Regions from separate parts of the Homo sapiens genome. Here regions 1, 2, 3 and 5 are each linked to region 4. Evidence: fine-mapped expression QTL. A gene starts in region 4. Each other region holds a variant in brackets. All regions are shown on one strand. Distances are from middle to middle.

What was found. PIP is the estimated chance that this variant, and not a neighbour inherited with it, causes the effect. A credible set is the group of variants that fine-mapping cannot tell apart.
Region 1: its variant is the best candidate, but not a certain one, in a credible set for the expression of MCM9 in whole blood (TOPMed, PIP 0.65).
Region 2: its variant is the best candidate, but not a certain one, in a credible set for the expression of MCM9 in subcutaneous fat (GTEx, PIP 0.59).
Region 3: its variant is the best candidate, but not a certain one, in a credible set for the expression of MCM9 in lung (TOPMed, PIP 0.71).
Region 5: its variant is the best candidate, but not a certain one, in a credible set for the expression of MCM9 in whole blood (INTERVAL, PIP 0.81).

What each region holds. Positions count from the first base shown.
Region 1 is chr6:118,861,581-118,866,687 of GRCh38, forward strand. All of the region lies in intron 8 of MCM9 (minichromosome maintenance 9 homologous recombination repair factor), which reads right to left. Among named protein-coding and RNA genes, the nearest start is that of ASF1A, 30 kb to the right of the region's middle. The variant C/G (reference allele first, on the strand shown) is at 2,621.
Region 2 is chr6:118,761,885-118,766,991 of GRCh38, forward strand. No RefSeq gene overlaps it. Among named protein-coding and RNA genes, the nearest start is that of CEP85L, 110 kb to the left of the region's middle. The variant G/C (reference allele first, on the strand shown) is at 2,119.
Region 3 is chr6:119,049,807-119,054,913 of GRCh38, forward strand. All of the region lies in intron 1 of FAM184A (family with sequence similarity 184 member A), which reads right to left. Among named protein-coding and RNA genes, the nearest start is that of MIR548B, 17 kb to the right of the region's middle. The variant C/T (reference allele first, on the strand shown) is at 2,201.
Region 4 is chr6:118,932,776-118,937,882 of GRCh38, forward strand. MCM9 (minichromosome maintenance 9 homologous recombination repair factor) reads right to left here and starts at 2,384. Exons shown (of 14, transcript NM_017696.3): 1 at 2,116-2,384. LOC124901389 (a long non-coding RNA gene) reads left to right here and starts at 2,140. Exons shown (of 2, transcript XR_007059729.1): 1 at 2,140-2,215. RefSeq lists silencers at 1,633-1,882, 2,133-2,562.
Region 5 is chr6:118,830,093-118,835,199 of GRCh38, forward strand. The region is part of intron 9 of MCM9 (minichromosome maintenance 9 homologous recombination repair factor); the gene reads right to left. Among named protein-coding and RNA genes, the nearest start is that of ASF1A, 62 kb to the right of the region's middle. The variant G/A (reference allele first, on the strand shown) is at 2,695.

The sequences.
Region 1 (5,107 bases), 71 kb before region 4:
AGGTTGTACTGACAAGTGTCCAGCACTCAGCAGAGAGGAGACCTATAGTGGGTAGCTCCTTTCTGCAGGCAGGTTGACCTGATGAGTGTGTGCATCTGGCTGGGTCTGGGGTTTTTGTGGGCTCAGAAGGGAGGAAGTGCATGCTGACTGGTCCACGGGTGGACCTGGAAAAAGCACCATAAGTTCTCACTTCAGGTTGTGGACTCCATCCAGAACCGGCAGCCTAGCCCTCAGGCTTCAGGCTGTCCCTGGCTTGAAGGTGGGGCTTCACCAGTGACCCACCCCTTCCTGCCTAGGAATGAATCTGCCTGCTTCCTGCCACCATCAACATGCCATCCATGTTGCCCAGGCTGTTCAGGATGAGGGAGGCCTGTAGGCCCATGCTGAGCTACCTTCAGCCCCCCGACATCCTCCCTCCCTGAGCTTGTCAGCACCCACAGTTTCAGAAGGAGCCAAGGCAGTGGGGTGGCACCCCTGGCCAGGTCACAAGAGTGTTCAGGCTTGGCTTCAACTTTGCTCTGAAATTGGAGTGACAGTCAGGAGTGGGGAAAGGCCAGGGAGCAGGAAAAGGTACTTCCAAGCCTTCAGGGGAAGGGGGGCTTCCTGGGCCCCCAAGAGTGCAGGGATGCCTAGGTCCAGAGCCATGGCTGGGTGGCTGTAGCTTCACCTGGGTGTGTGGGGAGCCAACTTGGTAGCAGGCAGGGCTCTCACCTGTTCCTGGCCCCTGCCAGCTCCATGGAGCGTACAGCCCTGGCCACACCTCCCACACTGCAGCTGGCATCCCCTCAGCAGTTGCTCCAAATGGGCTGATGCCACCATCAATTGTAACATATAATGAAATAATTATACAACTCACCCTAATGTAGAATCAGTGGGAGCCCTGACCTTATTTTCCTGCACCTAGACAGTCCCATCTGGGGATGATGGGAGACAGTGACAGATCATCAGGCATTAGATTCTCATAAGGAGTGCACAACCTAGATCCCTCACATGCACAGTTCACCATAGGGTTCATGCTCCTATGAGAGTCTCATGCTGCCACTGATCTGACAGGAGGCAGAGCTCAGGTGGTAATGCGAGCAATGGGGAGCAGCTATAAATAGAGACATAGCTTCGATTACTTGCCTGCCGCTTACCTCCTACTGTGCAGCCCGGTTCCTAACAGGCCATGGTTGGGAACCCTGCTATACAGGACCAAACATAAGAAGTACATCTGACATCTCCTCAGAAACCATGCAAGCAAGAAGACAGTAAAGTGAAATATTTAAAGTGCTAAAAGAGAAAAATCCCAACACAGAATTTTGTACCCTGAAAAATTATCCTTTCAAAGTAAAAGAGAAATAAAGACTTTCTCAAAGATTGAAGAAATTTATTACTAGTAGACCTGCCTTGCAAGGAATGTTAAAAGAAGTTCTTCAGAGAAAAGGAAAATGACATAGGTCAGAAACTCAGATCTATACAGAGAAAAGTAGAGCATTAGACAAAAAAAACCTGAAAGATAAAAACTTTTATTTTCTTATTCTTAATTGATCTAATAGACAACAGTTTGTCTAAAATATTAATAGAAACAACGTATTTAATTGTATATGCATAGGTATATATACATGTTTAATTATGCTTATGTATAAGTGAAATGAATGAGATGAAAGATCTAAGGACAAGGAGAAATTAGGAATATTCTGTCATTACGAGGTACTTACACTACCTGTGAACAGGTATAGTGTTATTTTAAAATGGACTTAGAATAGTTGTAAATGCATATGCAAACTCTAGGGCAACCACTTTAAAAAAAGTTTTTAAAAAGGCATATAATTGATATGCTAAGTGAGGAGAGAAAATGGAATCATAAAAACTGCTCAAAACCATAAAAGGCATAAAAAGCATCAAAGACAAAAATAGGGACAAAGAACAAGGGCAACAAATAAAAATAGTAACAAATATGGCACATGTTATGGTCTGAATGTTTGTCCCCCTGGCCCTAAAGCTCATATTAAATCTTAATCCCCATCATAACAGTATTAAGAGGGTGGGAAATCCAACTATGGTATTTGAGAGGTGGGACCTTTGAAAGGTAATTAGGATTAGATGAGATCATGAGGATGGGGCATTAGTGGCTTTAAAAGAGAAGTAAGAGTTAACACACTCAGGCCCCTTGCCATGTAATGTCTTCTACCACCTCAGAACTCTGCAGAGAGTCCTCATCAGCAAGAAGGCCTTTACCAAATGTGCCACCTCTACATTGTACTTCCTAGCATCCAGCACTCTAAGAAATAAATCCCTTTTTTTTATAAACTACCCAGTCTTAGGTATTTAGTTATAACAACAGAAAACAAACTAACTAAATATTAATCCACCTCTATCAATAATCACCTTAAACATCAATGTTCTAAATATATCAATTAAGACAGAGATTGTCAGAATTGATTTAAAAAAAAAAAAAGACCCAACTATAAGATGTTTACACAAAACCCATATTTCATTTTATTTTTTATTTCAATAGTTTTTGGGGTACAGGTGGTATTTTGGTTATGTGGATGAGTTCTTTAGTGCTGATTTCTGAGATTTTGGTGCCCCCATCATCTGAGCACTACACACTGTACCCAATAAGCAGTCTTTTGTC[C/G]CTCACCCCACTCCCACCATTCCCCGAGTCCCCAAAGTCCATTATATCATTCTCATGCTTTTGCGTCCTCACAGCTTAGCTTCTACTTGTAAGTGAGAACAAACAATATTTGAAAACCCATACTTTAAATATAAAGACACGTACAGATTAAAAGTGAAAGGACAGAGAAAGATTTATCACTCCAACAATAATCATTAAAAAGCAGGAGGTAAGAGGTAGTGATGCCAGCAACATGGCAGAACAGGAAGCTCCTGACTCTCCCTCCACCCACAAAAGCACCAAATAAACATCTATTCACGAATCAGTTCCCTCCGAGAGAAAGTCAGGGACCAGCTGAGAGACTCCTACACACTGGGCGACTAAGAAAATTTCCACATCAAATGGGAAGGAAAAGCTGAGGCATAGGACCCTGCCTTAGACACTGCTCCACATTATCTGGAAAGGACTCCCTAATATCAAGCTTCTTCCTGTGGAGAAGAGGATTTGTACTCACATGTAGAACCCTAACTCTAAGGTTTCCCATGGTCTGGTTCTTAATTCACCGGCTCTGAGAACAAAGAGGATTAAACACCCAAGACTCTCTAGACCACAATAAAATTGTGGTGGTTTGCTATGGGCACTCGAGTACTTCTGGGGCTTCATCCCCCAAGAGCAGTGCAGAGAAGGGGCCTAAAATATGCAGCCCCTTCTTTCTGCCTGGAAGGAATCTATAACACACTCTTCTGGTGGCTACATGCCTGCTTGTCTTCTAACGAACTTGCTTCAGGAAGTTAAAGAGGCAGACAAATATAGCTTGGCTGACAGCCTAAGAAGTGGACCGGCACTTCTTGAGTCTTCTCCCCTGGCTCATGCCAGAGGTAACTCCAGGTTTATTAATCTCTCATGGAAGAGAGTCTGACTGTATATTGAGCACCCACAATTTTACAGCTCCCACTCAACGGACTGTGTCCTAAACTTCCTATCTCTGAAACCAGAGGGAACAAAGTATATGTGAGTCTATCTGCACCACAGAAAAAAGTGCCAGTTTTATATGGGCATGTAGGCATTTCAGGGACGTCATACCATAGGGGCAGTGCAGAGAAGGGGCTTTAAAAACAGCTATTTCTCCTCAAATGGGGTTTATGCCACATATCAAGTGCTCCAACTTTTATAGCACCTCCCTAAATATTCCCTCTCTAAACTACTCTTAGCTCTGACAGCAGAAGATAGTAGGCATATGTGAGTCTCCTTAGATCACAGAACAAAGGGGTGGTCTTGAACAAGTGTGCAAACACTTCTAACGGCTACATCCCCTTGGAAAAGTCCCAAAAAGGGGTGAAAACATGTAGCTTCCATCTTCTCTCCAGAAGGGGCTTATAACATACTTCAAGTGGTCATTTGACAAGCTGGCTTCTAATGGACTTGCACTGGGGAGCTAACAGGGCAAACAAATAGCTCTGCAGCAGCCAAAACAGAGCTTGACACTTCATGATCCTTTCCTTTGGCTTACCCCTATGATAAATCTAGGCCTCCCCCATTCTACGTGAAAAAAGTCTGATTACACAGCAAGTGCCATAACTTCTATAACTTCCACCCAAGGTAATGTCTTCTTAACAAACTAGCTCTGGGAGTTGATGGGACTTTGCATTCTTGAGTGGTCCTAGATCCAAGAAAAAAAGAGGTGGACATACAATGGGCCCACATCCAGCAGCTATCTCCCCAGGATCTGAGGGCACAGCCTAAACATGAGTTCAGACATTTGCCATAGATCCTCTACCTGGCTTAGCACAGAAAGAGTGGGAAATAGACACCCACATTCAGCTTCACCATGAAGATGGAAGTAATTGAAACACATAGCCAACACCCCAATCTTTCCAGCTACATCTAAGATAATCTGGCTCCTAACTTCCCTGTCTTGAGGTACTGGCAGAACATGGCACATCTTAAGCTCCACAGTGCAACCCTAAACAGAGACAACAGTCTGGATGAACTCGAATATTTGAGAGGCACCTTAAAATCTTTGGCCAGACAGATTAGTGAGAACTTTCTCCTACATGAGACAAGTCTGACAAGACTGGGAGAGGTAGTTGTCTTATCTAATACACAGAAACCAAAATAGAGAGTCATGGAAAATGAAGAAACAAGGAAATACATTCCAAAGAAAAGAATATGGTAAATCTCTAGAAACTAACTGAAGTGAAGTGGAGATATGTGATGTACCTGAGAGAAAATTCAAAATAATGGTCAAAAAGATGCTCACCAGGGTCAACAGAGCAATGCAAGAAAAAAATGAGAACATCAACAAAGAGAAAGCATAAAATTATCAATTGAAAATCATATATCTGAAGAGTACTATAACTTAACTGAAAAATTCAAGAGAGGGGTTTAAGAGTAGGTAAGATCCAGTAGAAGAATAGATTGGTTAACTTGAGACAGGTTACTGGAAATCATCCAGTCTGAGGAGAAAAAAGAAAAGAAAAAGTGAAGGTAGCTCAAGCAATTTATGGG
Region 2 (5,107 bases), 170 kb before region 4:
CACCAAGGCATGACAATGCAATCTCATCCTAACCAATGAGGCATTAAGGGAAATCTGAGTAGAACTTCTGGTTGTTAAGACATGAAAGGCTCCGAGGGAGAGGTGGAGGGAACCTCTCTATTCTTCAGCCACATCCTTATCCTAGGTCAGAAGTGGCCTATCCTTGAAGCATAGGAAGGGTTTTCCCTCCTGAAAAGAAAGAAAACTCATTCCGCCCCCCTCCTTTTTTTTTTTAAATAATTTCAACTTTTATTTTAGATTCAGAGGTACATCTGCAGGTTTGTTACATAGGTATACTGCAAGATGTTGAGGTTTGGGGTACAAATGATCCCATCACCAAGGTACTGAGCGTGGTACTCAAAGGGCAGTTTTCAGCCCTTGTCCCCTCCCTCCATCCAGCCTCTAGTAGTCCCCAGTGTCTGTTGTTCTCATCTTTATGTCCATGTGTACTCATAGCTCCCACTTGTGAGTTAGAACATGTGGTATTTGGTTTTCTGTTCCTGTATGAATTCACTTAGGATATCAGGCTCCTGTTGCATCTATGTTGCTGCATAGGACATGATTTCATTCTTTTTTTGTTTTTGAGACGGAATTTCACTCTTTTTGCCCAGGCTGGAGTGCAATGGTGCAATCTCGGCTCACTGCAACCTCCGCTTCCCGGGTTCAAGCAATTCTCCTGCCTCAGCCTCCCAAGTAGCTGGGATTACAGGCGCCTGCCACTACACCTGGCTAATTTTTGTATTTTTAGTAGAGACAAGGTTTCACCATGTTGGCCAGGATGGTCTCGATCTCTTGACCTTGTGATCCACCCGCCTGGGCCTCCCAAAGTGCTGGGATTACAGGCGTGAGACACCGCGCCTGGCCAATTTCATTCTTTTTATGGCTGCATAGCATTCCATGTGTATATGTGCCACATTTTCTTTATCCAATCCATTGTTGATGGGCACCTAGGCTGATTCTATGCCTTTGCTACTGTGAATAGTGCTGCGATGAACATACGAGTGCATGTGTCTTGGAAACTCCTTTTTCATACATCTTTTCTTTTGTTTGGGACACTGGACTGAGACTGTGATGCCTGGAATTTTGAAAAACATATTGTGATCATGAGGTGGCAAGCAAGAGGACCAAAGTCAACACATTAAAGGTAGCAGAATGGAAGGAGGGAAAGAGGCTGGATCCTTTGTTGACAATGTTAGGTAATTAAATCTTTATTGCCTAAACAACTATTAGCTATTCTGTAACCTGCAGCCAAAAGCCTTCCTGATTAGAGATAACAGTTGTCTAGTAAAGTTAAAAAAAAAGCTTAAGACCCAGAAATTCTACTCATAGGCACAAACCCTAAATAATCCACAAATATTGATAAATGTTTAGTTTTGATATTTTCTTTATTACAAACACTCTTTGTAATCAAGTGAGAAATAGCAAACAGAATAACCCCAATGCATTAGAGACTTCCAGGGTAGCTTCCATTGGTATCAAAATAACTCAGAGAGCCACTTTCCTTTTTGATGCTGGTTACCATCATTTACAAAGTGCACCGATGTGCACAACCCTGGATTCAAGGTTTATATAAGTATCACTCCTAACAATTCTCTATTTCTCACAATCCTTAATTTTCAAAGATAGGTTACAAGATTGTAATATTTTCGCCCTATTCTCAGAAAGGGTGTGTGTTTCAAAACCACAAACCTTTCCCAAGTTCAGATATCAAGGCATATAGGAAACTACAAGGTAACTCAAGTTTTTAAAAAGAAAGGAGATGGGCGAGAGCGCTGGTTGTATAGGCAATCAAAACAGCCTTCCCTCTAAATCTAGGGCCAGAGAAAGATTGGATATAATTAATTTTTTCCTTCTTCAGGAAGGATTTCTCCAGTGTCTTTTTTTTTTTTTTTTTTTTTTTGAGATGGAGTCTTGCTCTGTCACCCAGGCTGGAGTGCAGTGGCGCCATCTCGGCTCACTGCAAGCTCCGCCTCCCGGGTTCACGCCATTCTCCTGCCTCAGCCTCAGGAGTAGCTGGGACTACAGGTGCCTGCCACTGCGCCCGGCTAACTTTTTGTATTTTTAGTAGAGACGGGGTTTCACCGTGTTCTCGATCTCCTAACCTCGTGATCCGCCCGC[G/C]TCGGCCTCCCAAAGTGCTGGGATTACAGGCGTGAGCCACCGTGCCCAGCCTTCTCCAGTGTCTTAAAAGTAACATTTCTTACATAGACTTCAAAGTGAAAATTACAAAACCTTTTTGGATCTCTGTGCTAAAGGAATTATGTAGAAAAGTGTTAATGCTGGAAAACAATATTCACTGAAAACTTGGATTTCTTTCCAGAAATTGTTTTATCTTAATTACTTTTGCAGTGGGATCTCACTTAGTGAAGTCTTAATTGACAAAGCTCATGAATTTTCCTTAGGGAAATGACTTGTGGCCAATAAAAAGAAGCAATATGTAATAAGCATCGTGCCCCAGCATTCGGCTCAGGTACTAACTATGAGAACAGTAACTCAAGCAAGCATCACTGTGAGGCTTTATTGAGTCACAGCTAGATGCTTCCAAAGGGGAAGCTAAACATTCTTCAAAACCTATAAAGCCTTGATTAAATATATGGTCTGCATTGTATTTGGAGGCTGAATATTGTAGTATAATATAGCATACCACTGTGGTATAATGCTGTAGTATATAGTATAGTATACTATCTAGTAGTAATAAGGGGTAAAAATGTAATGTGTTCTGAATTAGCATGGATTTTTATCTTTGATTTTGGATCTTTTGCTCTGAATAGCAAAAATCAAGGGTGTTCTATTATGGTTTTAAATGGCTTTTATACCTCCTAAAATGTGATCCCATTATTTTAGGGTTTCACATCTAAAATAGGCCTCTTTCTCTTGCAGTTTACTCAGACACTCCTATCTTTCGAATTTTTTAAATTACACTTGGAATCTGGAAATAATGTCTAGCCCCTTTTAGAATGAATTCCAGTTTAAAATAAATGATTACACTCAAGAGAAAGAAATCTGTTGAGCAATGACAATGAATTTGTTTTGCGCTGCAGTCAGGTGCCCAGTATTTTGACAAATGCTGGTTCATAGAACACAGCTTCCCGTGCATGGAGAGTTCCTGTTTCTGGCCATGCAGAGGGATCTGTGGTGGTGTCACTCACTGAAGAAACACTAAAGGAAGAACAGATTTGGGGGTAAAATTCACAAGCTTCAAAAGTATTGAGGTTGAATAGTCTTTTTTATATCCTTGTAGAGACTCCAGTAGGCAGGTTAGTAACCAGGTTGGAGTAGAGAGATGTCTGGGAGAACTATTTACACTGGAAGTTTCCCATATCCCAGGCAGAATGGATCATACCTTCTCCTGTGCTCCCATATCTTTTTTCATCCAAATGGTATTGGTTGGCCTCTGCCATTGTAAGTTTTCCTTTCTCTGTCTTTTATTCTATGTATTAGTCCAGAATCTATAAGGAACTTAAACAAATCAACAAGTAAAAAACAAATCTCCCATAAAATTCGGCAAAGGGCATAAACAGACACTTCTCAAAAGAAGACATACAAGCAGCCAACAAACATATGAAAAAATGCTCATTGTCACTCATCATCAAAAAATGCAAATCAAAACCACAATGACACAATGAGATACCATCTCACACCAGTCAGAATGGCTTTTATTAATAAGTCAAAAAAAAGAACATATACTAGCAAGGCTGCGGAGAAAAGAGAAGGCTTATTCACTGTTGGTGGGAATGTAAATTAGTTCAGCCACTACAGAAAGCAGCTTGGAGATTTCTTAAAGAACTTAAAACAGAGATACCATTTGACCTAGCAATCCCATTACTGTGTATACCCAAAGGAATATAGATCATTGTACCAAAAAGACACATGAACTCGTATATTCATTGCTGTTCTATTCACAATAAAAAAGGCATGGAATCAACTAGGTGCCCATCAATAGTGGATTGGATAAAGAAAATGCGGTACATATACACCATGAAATACTATGCAGATGGAAAAAAGAATGAAATGATGTCCTTTGCAGGAACGTGGATGGAGCTGGAGGCCATTATCCTAAGCAAATTAACATAGGAACAGAAAACCAAATACTACATGTCCTCACTTGTAACTGGGAGTGAAACATTGAGCACACATGGACATAAACATGGGAACAATAGACACTGTGGACTATTAGAGGCACGAGGGAGGGAGAGGGGCGTGGATTGAAAAACTACTGTTGGGTGCTATGCTCATTACCTGGGTCCAATATCCCCATGTAACAGTCCTACACTGGTACCCCCCATATCTAAAATTAAAGCTGAAATTTTAAAACAAAAAAACAACCAAATTACCACAAATTCAGTAGCTTAAATCAACACTATTTATGTTATAGTTCTGGAGGTCAGAAGTCCACAATGGGGCAACAGTCTGGTTCCTTGTGAAGACTTCAGGGACAATCTGTTTCTCTGTCTTTTCTAGTTTCTAGAGGCCGCCTCTATCCCTTGGTTTATGTCCCCTTATCACGTCGACCTCTGTCTCTGTCATCACATCTCCTTCTCTGACTTGGGCCCTTCTGCCTTTCCTCTGTAAAGACCCTTGTGAATATATTAGGCCCATGCAGATAATTCAGGAAAAATCTCATCATCTCAAATTCCTTGATTTAATTGCATCTGCAAAGTTGCTTTTGCTATGCAAAGAAACATAGTCACAGGTTCTGGGAACTAAGATGTGGACATCCTTTAGGGGCCATTGTTCTGCCTCCCACACCTTATCTACTTGGTTATTTGTAAGTCTAGATAAGCTTCCCTGCTCTGGGGTCCTAACTGACTCAGTTTGCATCCTCCCTCTGTGTTCAACATAGTACATGGTAGGCACTCCGCACATATTATTGGAACTTACTAAAGAGCCCAGGTATGGGGTGAGGCGCTAGACTAGAATGATAGTGTTAGGGGGAAAGGAGGCTAGAGAGGACGTTTGTGGCATCTGAAGGAACCAGCGATAAGACCCTCTCTGTGCCAAGAATCAGTGATGAAAGACTGAGCTGACTGGAGGACTGTGTCCTGTCTCGATGACGGGGATGGGACTAGGAGCAGGCATGAACCAAGGTAGTTGAATGAAATGCTTTAGA
Region 3 (5,107 bases), 120 kb after region 4:
TCACGACAAAAGCCAAAATTGACAAGTGGGATCTAATTAAGCTAAAGAGCTTCTGCACAGCAAAAGAAACTATCATTAGAGTGAACAAGCAACCTACAGAATGGGAGAAAATTCTTGCAAACTATGCATCTGACAAAGATCTAATATCCAGCATCTATAAGGAACTTAAATGTACAGGACAAAAACAACCCCATTAAAAAGTGGACAAAGGACATGAACAGACACTTTTCCAAAGAAGACATACATGCAGTGAACCAGCATACGAAAGAAAGGTCAATATCACTGATCATGAGAGAAATGCAAGTCAAAACCACAATGAGATACCATCTCACACCAGTCAGAATGGCAATTATTAAAAAGTCAAAAAACAACAAATGCTAGTGAGGTTACAGAGAAAAGGGAACACTTATACATTGCTGGTGGGAGTGTTAATTAGTTCAACCATTGTGGAAAGCAGTGTGGCAATTCCTCAAAGAGCTAAAAACAGAACTACCATTTGACCCAGCAATCCCATTACTGGGTATATACCCAGAGGAATATAAATCATTCCACCATAAAGACACATGCAGACGAATGTTCACTGCGGCACTATTCACAATAGCAAAGACATGGAATCAGCTTAAGTGCCCATTAATGACAGATTGGGTTTTTTTTTTAAAAAAAGGGTACATATACACCACAGAACACTATGCAGCCATAAAAAAAAAATGAGATCATAGGCCGGGCGCGGTGGCTCACGCCTGTAATCCCAGCACTTTGGGAGGCTGAGGCGGGTGGATCATGAGGTCAGGAGATCGAGACCATCCTGGCTAACAAGGTGAAACCCCGTCTCTACTAAAAATACAAAAAATTAGCCGGGCGCGGTGGCGGGCGCTGTAGTCCCAGCTACTCGGGAGGTTGAGGCAGGAGAATGGCGTGAACCCGGGAAGCGGAGCTTGCAGTGAGCCGAGATTGCGCCACTGCAGTCCGCAGTCCGGCCTGGGCGACAGAGCGAGACTCCGTCTCAAAAAAAAAAAAAAAAGAGATCATGTCTTTTGCAAGAATATGGATAGAGCTGGAGGCTATTACTATCCTTGCAAACTAACTCAGGAAAAGAAAACCAAATATCGCAGGTTTTCACTTATAAATGGGAGCTAAATGATGAGAACTCATGAACACAAAGAAGGGAACGCTGGGGCCTACCTGAGAGTGGAGGGTGGGAGGAGGGAAAGGAGCAGAAAAAATAACTGTTGGGTACTAGGCTTAACACCTGGGTGATGAAGTAAGTTGTACAACAAACACCTGTGACATGAGATTACCTACATAACAAACTCACACATGTACACCTGAACCTAAAATAAAAGTTTAAAAAAAGAAAATGTGGTACATGTACACAATGGAATACAATTCAGCCATAAAAAAGAATGAGACTCAGTCATCTACAACAACATGGATGGAACTGGAGATCATTAGGTTAAGTGAAATAAACCAGGCACACAAAGACAAAACACTACGTGTTCTCACTTATTTGTGGGATCTAAAAATCAAAACAATTGAACTCATGGACATAGAGGGTAGAATGATGGTTACTAGAGGCTGGAGAGGGTAGTGGGGTGTTAGGAAGAAGGAGGGATGGTTAATGGGTACCAAAAGAAAAAAATGAATAAGACTTACTATTTGATAGCACAGTAGGATAACTATAGTCAATAACTTAATTGTATATTTTAAAATAAAGACTATAATTGGATTGTTTGTAACTCAAAGGATAAATGCTTGAGAGAATAGATACTCCATTTTCATTGACATGCTTATTTCATATTGCATCAAAACATCTCATATACCCCATAAATATATACGAGTACTATGTACCCACAAAATTTTTTTTTAAAAAGAGAGTATCTTGCCAAAAAAGAAAAAAAAGAATATCCTGCTATTGGTTTGAGAGGTAAAGTAAGAGGTAAAATAAGAGGGCTATAATGTGTTATCTTGTCTGATCGCAGGACTCAAATACAGGTTTTTGAATAAGAACTTGGAAATTAATAAAAGTTAATGAGGTGAGTCAGGTAAGACTGGAAGATTATTTTATGCAACAGAAAATAAGCACTGTAGACTCTGGTTGTATTTGGTGAGAAATCCTCTTTGAAAAGCCAGAGCCTTCAGAGTCAGCAGCCATTGGAGGCCCAGGTTCCCAGACAGCAGTATCTATGTATGAGACTCAGGT[C/T]CTGAGCTGGGGTGCAGACTCCCTGAACATCTCCTGAGGTACGACTGCAGTCTCTCACATAGTGATCTCTATTATGTCAGTCCTTGAATGGACCTAATGTTCTGCCAATCACACATTCTCCTGTAATTCCTAAATTAGTTACCTAACTCAAGCATAATTCAAAGACTGAAAATAATTTCAATTAGCTATTTTGGATATAGACACCTACATTCTATTTTTTTCTTCATTTCTTCCTTTCACACCTAAATGTACTGTGAAAGAATGAAAAGATACAAATATGTTACCTAAGAGTTCCTCCATTATGTACTCTTCCCCTCCTCCTACCACAAAGTCATTATTAGATCCTAACAGTTCTACTTCCAAAATACATCATGATGTCTGCACTTACCTCTATTTCCATCACAACCACCCTAATGCAAGCCACCACCATCTGGCATTAGGCCTAGGACCATTGTAGTAGTCTCCTAACTGATCTTTCGGCTTCCCCTCATGCTGTGCCACAATTCATTCCTGAATCAGTAGCCAAAGTGGTCATCTCAAAACATAAATCATAACAGAACCCTTGCTTGCAGCCTGCCGATGGTTTCCCACCACACATGTACAGGAGGAAAAAAGTCAAACTCTTCTCTGTGGCCTTCAGAGTTGTATCTGATCTGATTCCCACTCCTGATTTAAGCTGGCAGCCACTTTCACCAAATGAATCAACAACCAACCACCAGAGGCAGGAGAGGAAGCAGCACTAGCTGAAAGAGGCCAGTATCACACAAGCTGTATAGGTAGAGGCTTTGTGCAAAACACATAAGGAATTTGAATTTCTAAATACACTGAGTTGTCTTAAAGGAAGGTACCCCAATATAATGAATCATCTAACAGTCAAGTTATAACATTGTGCCAAATTCAGTAAACACTCCTTTCTTTGTAGGTAATGTAGAACCAGTGAAGGGATTTAAGTAGAGGAATAACTTGATCTGACTTGCATTTTAGAAATTAAAATTCTGGTTGCACTGTGGAGGATGTATTAGATGAGATTTGATTAAAGAACAGCCAAAGGCATCGAAATACCTCAGGAAAAGAGCCCTGTGCTTCCTAACACAAACCTTGGGCTGGAGAACTGATACCTGACTGAAGAGCTATTTGGGTCATACATACACTCAGCAAGGGAAGCTGGTGGTTGCTTGAAAGTTAGGGGAGAGGTGCCCTCTCTCAGTTGTTGAGTCTGTTAATGAGGTCATGCACCTCTACAAACTTCATTCTATCTTCAATCAAGGTTTATACTTTACAAGTTATAGAGGACTTGTACAGCACCTGCTAACTGAAATTACTCACATACCCCCCAGACAGTGACCTGCTATTTCAGATAAACCTGAGCTGGAATGGGCTATTATAACTCAGGCACCTCTGACTCCTGTGTTTATAGCTCTGTTCTTAGGTCCTATCTTCCCAGCAAAGCAGGCACATCTAAAAACACATCACCCCAAATTTCTCTATGTAACAGCCTAACGCCAATTGTGCTTAACCACTTTTCTGCCCAATGACCAAGGGGATATTACACTTCCATTAATACCTTTTGATCACTATGGCAATATTTTCAATTTAGGGTAGAGGTAGGATGTAGTATAAGAATCACTAAGTGGCCCTTTAAAAAGACTACACATTCATTCCCATTCTCCATCCTATGGCCACCCACACACCCACAAAGGGAGGTAACTGAGTGGAAAAATGATTGACAACCACCTGCTTTACTAAATACAAAGATAAGGGCCAATAAAATTAATTCAGTTATTAGAATATTATGCCAACCTGTTTTTAAGAATTCTGAAACAGAGTAGTATTATCCCAAACAGAATTCTTAGAGAAGCGTCTGTGTTTTAAAATACTTTTCTGTTGTTTCCTATGGTGATAAACATTTTCAAGTCCCAATCTACTTCTCAGCAGGCACTACACATAGTTTAATGAGACGAATATTACGATGTGCTCCCTACTGAGAAAATCTCAGTGCCATAATAAAAGGATATGAAGTTAATGTAATGAAGTTTTAAGAAAAAACCTTAAAGTTCTCAACATTCAAATCCTTTAGAGAAAAAAAAAAATCATATATAATTTAATGACAACCTTCCCAATACATTTATCTTTCTACTATCCCATCTCCACTATTTTTTACAGAAAACGAAAACACTGTATGTAACCCTAAAAGGGAAGCTGAAATAAATGACTGAATTACAATCAAAATGAATCACGCTAGCTTAGCAATTATATACAATAATTCAGAATTGTTTTAGTCTGTTTGGGCTGCTATAACAAAAATACCATAAACTAGGTAGCTTATAAACAACAGAAATTTATCTCTTACAGTTCCAGAGGCTGGAAAGTCCAAGATCATCAGCAGACTGGGTGGCAAGGGCCTGTTCCGTAGTGATGGTGCCTTCTATGTGTTCTCACATGGCAGAAGTGGCAAATAAGCTCCCTTGGACCTCTTTTATAAGGGAAGTAATCCATTCATGAGGGCTCTTTCCTCATGACCTTAGCACCTCCTCAAGGCCTCACCTCTTAATTCTATTACACTGGGGATTAGATTTCAACATATGAAGTTTGGGGGACATAAACATTTAGACAAGAGCAAGAATTTCCTAAAGTGTGACATAAGAAGGGACTTTAGGTAATCAATATTTTTATTTGATATGTATGCATTTATCTTAACCGTCACTAAACCTAAGTGGCCCACCAAATCTGTGAAGTTATATGTTACTGCTTAGGATAAAATTAAAGTAGGCAGAGAAATTCACATAGACTTCTTGCCTTATAGGTCCTATACTCAGGAATATTCACGCTTTGAGTCTTGAGTAACTGAGCCTTGTGACAATTTTTTTTTAATAACAGCTTTGAGATATAATTTATGTAACATAAAAT
Region 4 (5,107 bases):
AAGGTGAAAAAACACTGAGTCTTCAAATAATAAAAAAGTATTATTGAAAATAAATACAGCATATACCATTACTTTATCTCATTCCCCTGGCACTCTATTAAAAAGTATGTATCTACAGATAAAAAGCACCTATCCCCATTCTAGTTTCATGTATACAGACGGATAACAAATTACATATGTATAAACCCAATTCAATGTCCATTTCCTAATATCTATCATGTACAAGGCACTATGCTGGCAAATGAAAAGTATAGTAAAAGGTTCTCTATGTCCTCAGAAATCCAAGGGGCAAATAAAACGAAACAGTGCACTACCAGTGGTCAAAAATGCAATATGAATAGGAGTCAAAGGAGAGGGAGGTTAAATTTAAATGAGGTGACGATCTCAGAAGTAGCACTGGACAGTTAGAAACCAGCTGTCCAAATAAGAAACACTTATTTGGGGCCGGGCGCAGTGGCTCACGCCTGTAATCCCAGCACTTTGGGAGGCCGAGGCAGGTGGATCACGAGGTCAGGAGATCGAGACCATCCTGGCTAACACGGTGAAATCCCGTTCTCTACTAAAAAAAAATACAAAAAAAATTAGCTGGGCGTGGTGGCAGGTGCCTGAAGTCCCAGCTACTCAGGAGGCTGAGGCAGGAGAATGGCGTGAACCCGGGAGGCGGAGCTTGCAGTGAGCCGAGACCACGCCACTGCACTCCAGCCCGGGCACAGAGCGAGACTCCGCCTCAAAAAAAAAAAAAAAGAGAGAAACACTTATTTCGTTTGGAAAGAGATTGAGGACTGGAGAAGAGGTGTACTTAAATTTGACTTACTTCATTTGTCCAACATTTATTGTACTGGACTCTACAAATACGAATATTAAAGGAGACTGCTATAAAGTTCACAGTTTATCATCCTAAGTACGTGTTATACACGCTATTTGCTATATTTTGCTTTCTCTGAGAACCTACTATTCCGCAAGGTGTGAAACGTTTAAGAAGTACATATAGCAGTTAGGTCAAGAATCCTGACCACTATAGGAGGCCAGAGTGAGAGTAAGAATGAGTAAATGTATATCCAAAACAATGAGTGGAAATAAATTACGGCCTCCACGGTAATTTGTTTTTGGTTAAGCAATATAAATTCAGCCAAGTGTAAAGCAGAAAAAGCACTTGGGAAGGAATATCTCCACAATGTGGACTTTGCCCAAAAAAAAAAAAAAAAAAATCTGGACTCCCAACAGTGGCTACAAGAGAATCACTATGATTCTATTAAAGCATATTAAGTTTAGAGCCACAAATTTAGCAATTTGAAAAACAGCTCCACACAAGGCAGGAAAAGGGCAGCAGCAGAATTCAACGTTCAAATTAAGGTCAGATTAAATTTTGCCTAGTTAGGCTAGCATTTCTATGGTTATATGGACCATCGTTATTCATTCCCTTTCAACATCTATGCAAAACTGACTAATCAACTGTGTTATCAGCAGTTTGCTAAATCAATAAACGTACCTACTACCCACCCAGATAGACACTGGAGGGACTTTTTGTTTTGAGAAGGGTCATTTCACAACTTTCAAGTTCTCTTTCCTTTTCTTATTGAATATTTGGGGTCAAAATAAAATCATTTGCTTTACTTTGTCCTCTTGACCACAGCGAAGCGTCGAAAAGAAGACAGGAGAGTGCCTAACTGCACTGGCATCCCCCAGCTGTCTCCGGGAATCGCGGCAGCCCCGCCCCGCCCGCCTGCACCTGCCGGGAGCCCCGCCCCCTCCGCGCGGGCTGGCGGGACGCGCGCCCTCGGCCCCGCCCCACTCCCTCCGCCCCTCTCACTGCGGGGGCGCGCCATTTCGCGCCTCCGGGCCGCTCGGCTGCCCCAGGGGCGCCTGGCAAACGTGGAGTCGCTCGGTTTTGGAGGCATGCTTTCCAAACTTTCTAATTCACAGGGTCTTTGCACGCAGCCCCTGCCCCACAACACCTTGGCAGTCTCTGAGACTTCTGGGGCTCTTCTCCCGGGCAGCTCCCGTGCCTGTCCGGTCCCGGAGTTGAATAGTTTTTGAAGTAATGAGACGGGAACGAGACTTGGGACGAACTGGAGAAAAACATAACCGCGAAAGGAGGAGGCGGCTATCACTTACTGGCTGTGTCAGAAGTCGCCGGGAACGCGTTGCTCCCGAGGCCGAAGGGCCCAGAGAGCTCCAGCCAGGCAGCGGGTTCGTCTCCGGCGCAAGAAGGCTGGTGAGGCGGAGTGCGCGCGTGCACGTGGCCGCTCGAGGCGCCACCGGCCGCGGGGACGCGCGGGCTGTGTCGGGCGGCCTAGCGCCTGCGGCTCTGCCGGGCCTGCGCTCTCGACCGACGCCGGGCCGCGCACCGCCTCAACTTCCCTGCCCCGGCGGCTCTTCCGGATGGAGACGAGGCAGCGGGGCGGGGTGGAGCGGAGCGGGCGGATTGGGGCGGAGCCAGGAGGGTCCCGGGCGGGGAGAGGGGCGGGACCCGAGCAGTGACCTCAGGCTAAGTGGCCAGAGCAGGGTTGTGCGGCGGCTCAGATCGGATCTTAGGGTTTGTTTTTTGTCTGTCCAAGGAATTTGCCTAACCCAAGGCCACAGAGGATCTCTTCTGTGTTTTCTGACACAAGTTTTAGAATTTTAGGTTTTATATTGAGGTCTGTGATCCAATTAGAGCTAATTTTTGTCTGTGGTGCAAAGTATGGATCTTAGGTCATTTTTTTGTATGTGAATAGTGTCATTTGTTTAGAGAGCTTTCTTTTTCTCACTGAATAGCTTTTGCACCTATGTTTAAAATCAGTTGTCCCTAAAGCATCAGTTGTGGGTCTATTCTTAGACTTTCTATTCTGTTCCGACAATTTATTATATTTCTCTCTACAAAAATACCACATTGTCTTGATTCCTGTAGATTCGTAAGAGTCTTAAAATCAGATCGTGTTTGGCCTCCAATTTTTTGTTATTTTTCAAAAATGTTCTGGCTCATCTAGTCCCTTGGGTTTTCATATGAATGTTAAAATCAGCTTGTCACTTTAAAAAGTTGGGATTGTGATTGGTTACATTTCGTCTATAGATCCATGTAAGAATAATTTACATGTTAACAATATTTAGTAATGACCCTTAAAGTAAGCCTCTTCATTTATTTAGGTGTTATTTCACTCAGCAAATGTTTTGATCTTTTGTCAGGTCTAGTCTTATATAGTCCATTTTCACAGTGCTAATAAAGACATACCTGGGACTGAGTAATTTATAAAGGAAAGACGTTTAATTGACTTACAGTTCAGCATGGCTGGGGAGACTTCAGGAAACTTAAAATCATGGCAGAAGCGGGAGCAAACCTCCTTCTTCACAGGGCTGCAGGAAGGAGAAGTGAGGAGCAAGGAGGGAAAAGCCCCTTAGAAAACCATCAGATCTTGTGATACCTCACTCACTATCAGAGAACAGCATGGGAATAACCACCCCCATGATTCAGTTACCTCCCACCGGGTCCCTCCCACAACACCTGGGGATTATGGTAACTACAGTTCAAGATGAGGTTTGGGCAGGGACACAGCCAAACCATATCACCCTATGTCAGATTTATCCATAAATCTAAGGATGGGGGAAAAATATACTTCTTGATATTATGTAAATGACATTTTAAATTTTCAGTTGTTCTTTGATAGTGTCTTAGTCTGTGTTGCTAAAAAGGAATGCCTGAGACTGAATAATTTACAAATAAAAGAGGTTTATTTGGCTCACACTTCTGCAGGCTGCTTCTGGTGAGGGCTTCAGGCTGCTTCCACTCAGTGAAGGGGAGGCTGCCTGTGCAGATCACATGGCCAGAAGAGAAGCAAGAGAAAGGGGAGGTAGTGGTCAGGCTCTTTTTAACAATCAGCTCTGGAGGCAACTAACAGAATGAGAACTCATTATGCAATGGCAGCACTAAGTTTTCCTGAAGGATCTGCCCCTGTGACCCAGACACCCCCAACTAGGCCCCACACTTGGGATCAGATTTTAAGATGAGATTTGGAAGGGAGAAATACTCAAACTATGTCAGATAGTGTGTAAAAATATGATTGGGGGTTTTGTTGTTGTTGTTACAGGTTCTTGCTCTGTTGCTCAGGCTGGAGTGCAGTGGTGTGATCATGGCCCACTGCAACCTCTGTCTGCCAGGTTCAAGCAATCCTCCTACCTCAGCCCCCTAAGTAGCTGGGTGATATGGTTTGGCTGTGTGTCCCCACCCAAATCTCACCTTAAATTGTAATCCCCAGGAGTCTGGTGGGAGGTGATTGAATCATGGGGCGAACTTCCCCCTTGCTCTTCTCATGATAGTGAGTTCTCATGAGATCAGGTTTTTTGAAAGTGTCTGGCACTTCCCCCTCACTCATTCTCTCTCTCTGGCAGTTCCCCCTCACTCATTCTCCCTCTCTCTCCCGCTCTGCTATGGTAAGACGTGCTTGCTTCCCCTTTGCCATCTGCCATGAATATAAGTTTCCCGAGGCCTCCTAGTCATGCTTTCTATTAAGCCTGCAGAACTGTGAGTCAATTAAACCTCTTTTTGTCATAAATTGCCCAGTCTCAGGTAGTTTTTTATAGCAGTGTGAAAACAGACTAATACATTGGAATTATAGGTCTGTGCCACCACACCTGGCTAATATTTTGGTATTTTTTTGTAGAGATAGGGTCTCACTATGTTGCCCAGGCTGGTATAATTGAATTTTTAACATTAATCTTGTATTTGCAATTTTGTAAAAACCACTTATGAGTTCTAACAGCTTTTCTTGTGGATTTTGCTAGATTTTCTATATATTCAGGATTTGTTATCTATGAATAAAGACAGTTTTACTTCCTTTCTATTCTGGAGGCCTTTTATTTCTTTTTCTTGTCTTTTTGCACTGACTAGAAGCTTGAGTACGGTGTTGGATAAAAGTGATGAGACCAGACATCCTTTCTTTGCTTCTGATCTTAGAGGGAAAGTTATCAGTCTTTTACTCTTAAATATGGATGTTAGCCCAGGGTTTTTTGTAGATGCCCTTTATTAAGATGTAGGAAGATTTGAGCACTTTTATCAAGAATGAATGTTGGATTTCATTAAGGCTTTTCTACATGTGTGGAAATGATCACTTTGCTTTTTTTTTCTTTTAGT
Region 5 (5,107 bases), 100 kb before region 4:
GATGTGACATAACTTAGATATTGTTTTTAAACTAATTAATGATGGGCTAGTTCTCAAAATAATGTGACATATTCATTGGCAATAACAAATGTAAAAATTTGAATCTGTAAATTTGTATGCTGTGCACTTGATGCCCATTTTTAGTTATAGTGGGATGTCTGCCTCCCAAGTCACAGCCCTATGACATCAGCAACATGTATTACATTTGTTAATCCCTGATCTATTTCTAGCTAGCAGCTACTTCATTCCCTGAGGCTGAAAATGTTTGAGAATCTTTATTTGTGGCAAGTGGCACAAGAAGACACTGATTAAATAAATAAGAGAAAGATAAACAAGGCATTTTTACCAAAAACTAAATTCCCTTTTAAAAAATTAGTGACAAGGAAAAATTCTGGACAGTCCACATCTTATAATTTATGTGTCAAAATGGCTTTTGTAAAGACAGTTGTTTAGAACTTGGAATATAATTTGCCATAGAACAATGTAATAAGCGGTTCCTAAGTAACCCACAAAAGCACATTTAACCCACACTGAAGACGGACTATTTGTATTTCTTATTTAAAAATGTCCACAACACTGGCAATGAAACAAAATACAATTGCATATGACATAATTTTTATAAAATTATTTTTAATGCTAGGTCAAATGAATTGTTCATTCATCCTCTCTCTGACCAACCAATATTTATAGACCATTTCCTTTGTGCAAAAAGCTGTACTGAGAATCCAAAAAGGTACATATCTGATCTCTGCTGCCAATTAGTTTACAACAGAACTGCTGGGGAAAGAAGAGGTGGAGCAGAGTGCCTGCCAGATCGTAAGTGTGCAAGGAGTGCTGGTGTCAGTATCAGCATTAGTATCAGCAGGGAGAAACTTCGGTGGGGACACCTGGAGATCTATAGGGGATATAATTGGAGAGTTTTCCAATGTATGAGAAGAAAAATGAACACAGAAAGAAGGTGGTAAATTATGCCTAAGGTAACTGGGGGAATTAATTTTTCCATTAGAAAAGCTTAAGCTTAAGAATCATGCTGGTGGATCGCCAGAGCTCAGGAGTTTGAAACCAGCCTAGTCAACATGGTGAAACCCCATCCCTACTAAAAATACAAAAAATAGCCGGCACGGTGGTACACACCTGTGGTTCCAGCTGCTTGGGAGGCTGAGTTGGGAGAATCACTTGAGCCTGGGCGGTGGAGGCTGCAGTGAGCCGAGCTTGTGCCATTGCACTCACAAAGCAAGAGACCATCTCAAAAAAAAAAAAAAAAAAAAAGTTGGGGGTGGGGAGAACTAACAAAAATTTGTATGCAAAGAAAAAAGGCTGTCTGAGGTGAAGTCAGCAGAAATAGGAGCAAGGAAAATACGGGAGTGGGCAGAGGAAGAGGAGATTATGAGAGATAAGTCAGGCAGATCCCTGTAGCAAAGAGGGAGGATGAAGACAGTGCCAGGACAGACAGGGTGGTCTCTGGGCATTTGAAAGTGGGGAAGACCATATGTAAACCTGGTGGGTACAGACCTGTGATACAAACATTTTTTAAAAAAACTAAATGGGGCTTTAGAAAACAAACACAAATACATACATACAATCTAATCCTAAGTATACAGTGCGTAGTAGTGGCTCACTAAATACTAAATGAATGAATTCATAGACTGTAAGGTAACTCATTTTTCTATCCCATATGAACTCTACCTTCAACAATATTAATAAAAATAACTACATTTTTAATATCAAGCAAGCACTGCATTAGGTTTACAAAGATCATCCCTAATCACAGCAACCTGAAGGGTAGGTGCTATTATCACAAACTTAGAAATAAGGAAACTAGAAGTTCAGGAATATTAACTTCCCCAAGGTTACACTGAGAGGAGCAGAGCTGAGATTCAAACCTAGATCTGCTGGGCTCCAAAATCAATGCGCTTTTACTTCCAGACTGCCGATTCTGCCTGGGATTTTCGGCATCAACTTATTTGCCTTACTTATTTTTTTTAAAAGACATGGTCTCACTCTGTTCCCCAGGCTGTAGTGCAGTGGAGCAATTACAGCTCACTACAACCTCAAACTCCTGGGCTCAAGTGATCCTTCTGTCTCTGCCTATCAAGTAGCTAGCATTACAGGTGTACATCACCATGCCCAGCTGATTTTCAGAAAATTTTTTGTGGAGATGGAATCTTGCTATGTTGCCCAGGCTGGTCTTGAACTCCTGGCCCCAAGAATCCTCCCGCCTTGGCCTCCCAAAGGGCTGGGATTACAAGTGTGAGCCACCTTGCCCAGCCTATTTTTGTCCTACTAAATGTGGTCTTCCTTGAGAGATTGTGATTTATTGTTATAATCCTCACACTGCCTGGTACATAGTAAATGCTTAATAAATGTACATAATTTAAACGACAAATAAAAATAAATCTTTACTTAGTTCAGTATTTCTGAACTTCAGCATTATTTTACATTTACAGGCTTTGTCATAAAAGGATGCTGATACATATTTCTTTTGTATTAAACTTCAAGAAGTAAAGACATTCCAATTTCTGAAAAAACTACTTTTACATTTATTTAATGCACACATTTAAACGTCCTACAAACACAGTAGTAACTGTTCTACTAATAACTTGTGTAACCTAACATTGTAAAGTTATTTTTACCAGTAAAGACCCTTAAGAAAGTGCCCTTGTTTTTGTGAAGGTCTCCCATTACTCCCTTTAC[G/A]GGATGATCCTCATCTTTACTTATGGCTTTGATCACCACCTATATGCTGGTACTTCCAAATTTATCTCCAGCCTGTGGCACCAGGTGCTATATGTTCACCTAACCTTGTTTTCTTTCCATCCTGGGAATAGAGCAAGATTGTATTTCCTATTCCCATTACAGTGAAGTAGGGCTATGATACCAAGTCTGGACAATGAAGTAAAGATAGAAGAACATAAACCACTTTTAGGTCTGGCCCCTAAAAGCCTTCCTGTGCAATCTTTTTCTCTCTCTTTACTAGTGGAGTACAGAAGAGGATAAAGCCCTGGAGTCAGAGAGCCACATGAGAGAAGGAGCTTGGGCCCGGAATCATTGTCGGAGCAGAGCACACCACCCTCAATCCACATCAGACTGACACGAACAAGAAAAACTTCCTTCGGCAAAGCATTGCAGGCACGTGGTGAGCACAGGAAAAAACTGACCAATCTTCAAAGAGAAATGAAAAGCAATGAAGACATCTCAGAAATTTGAGGTTTTGAAGTGTTAGGGAAAAAAAATTGCTTCTAGACCCCAGACAGTAAGAAGCAAAATTGAAAAAAGCTTGAACAAAGGCCCAGTAAATTTTCTCAGTTGTATAAAGTCACTTAGATTGAGCATGAAATCTGCTTTAGATGGTGGTAAGGTAGCCACTGTTAAGTAATGAAGCCCACACCCATGTTCTCAGCAGCACTACACACACAACAGCTGAGAGGCGGAGAAAATCCAGGCGTACATAGATAAAGGAATGGATAAGGAAAACGCGGTCTATACACACAATGGAAAATTGTTCAGTCTTAAAAAGAAAGAAAATGCAAACACATACTACAACATGGAAGAACCTTAACTATATCATGCTAAGTGAAATAAGCCAGTTACGAAAGATCAATACTGTATGATTCCACTTACCTGTGAAATACCTAGAGTAGTCAAATCCATAGAAACGGAAAGTAGAATGGTGGTTGCTAGGGGCTGGGAGGAGGAGGAAATGGGAGTTTTTTTAAACAGGTATAGAGTTTCAGTTTGCAAGACGGAAAGAGTCCTGGTGATTGCTTGTACAACGTGACTTATACTTTTTAAAAATTATTATTATACCTTAAGTTCTGGGATATATGTGCAGAATGTGCAGGTTTGTTACATAGGTATACATGTGAAACGGTGGTGTGCTGCACCCATCAACCCATCATCTACATTAGGTATTTCTCCTAATGTTATCCCTCCCCTAGCCCCCCACCCAGTGTGTGATGTTCCCCTCCCCGTGTCCATGTTTTCTCATTGTTCAACTCCCACTTATAAGTGAGAACATGCAGTGTTTGGTTTTCTGTTCCTGTGTTAGTTTGCTGAGAATGACGGTTTCCAGCTTCACTCATGTCCCTGCAAAGGACACGAATTCATCCTTTATGGCTGCATAGTATTCCGTGGTATATATGTGCCACATTTTCTTTATCCAGTCTATCATTGATGGGCATTTGGGTTACTTCCAAGTCTTTGCTATTGTGAACACTGCTGCAATAAACATACGTGTGTATGTGTCTTTATAGTAGAATGATTCATAATCCTTTGGGTGTATACCCAGTAATGGGATTACTGGGTCAAATGGTATGTCGGTTATAGATCCTTGAGGAAATCGCCACACTGTCTTCCACAATGGTTGAACTAATTTACACACCCACCAACAGTGTAAAACAGTTCCTATTTCTCCACATCCTCTCCAGCATCTGTTTCCTGACTGTTTAATGATCACCATTCTAAATGGTGTGACATAGTACCTAATTGTGGTTTTGATTTGCACTTCTCTAATGACTACTGATGATGAGCTTTTTTTCACGTTTGTTGGCCATATAAATGTCTTCATTCCAAAAGTGCCTGTTCATATCCTTCACCCACTTTTTGATGTGGTTTTTTTTTTTCTTATAAATTTGTTTAAGTTCTTTGTAGATTCTGGATATTAGACCTTTGGCAGATGGACAGATTGCAAAAATTTTCTCACATTCTGTAGGTTGCCTGTTCACTCTGATGATAGTTTCTTTTGCTGTGCAGAAGCTCTTTAGTTTAATCAAATCCCATTTGTCAATTCTGGCTTTTGTTGCCATTGCTTTTGGTGTTTTAGTCATGAAGTCTTTGCCCATCCCTATGTCCTGAATGCTATCACCTAGGTTTTCTTCTAGGGTTTTTATGGTTTTAGGTCTTACGTTTAAGCCTTTAATCCATCTTAATTTTTGTATAAGGTGTAAGGAAGGGGTCCAGTATCAGTTTTCTGCATATGGCTAGCCAGTTTTCCCAACACCATTTATTACATGAGGAATAATTTCCCCATTGCTTGTTTTTGTCAGGTTTGTCAAAGATCAGATGGTTGTAGATGTGTGGGATTATTTCTGAGGTCTCTGTTCTGTTCCAT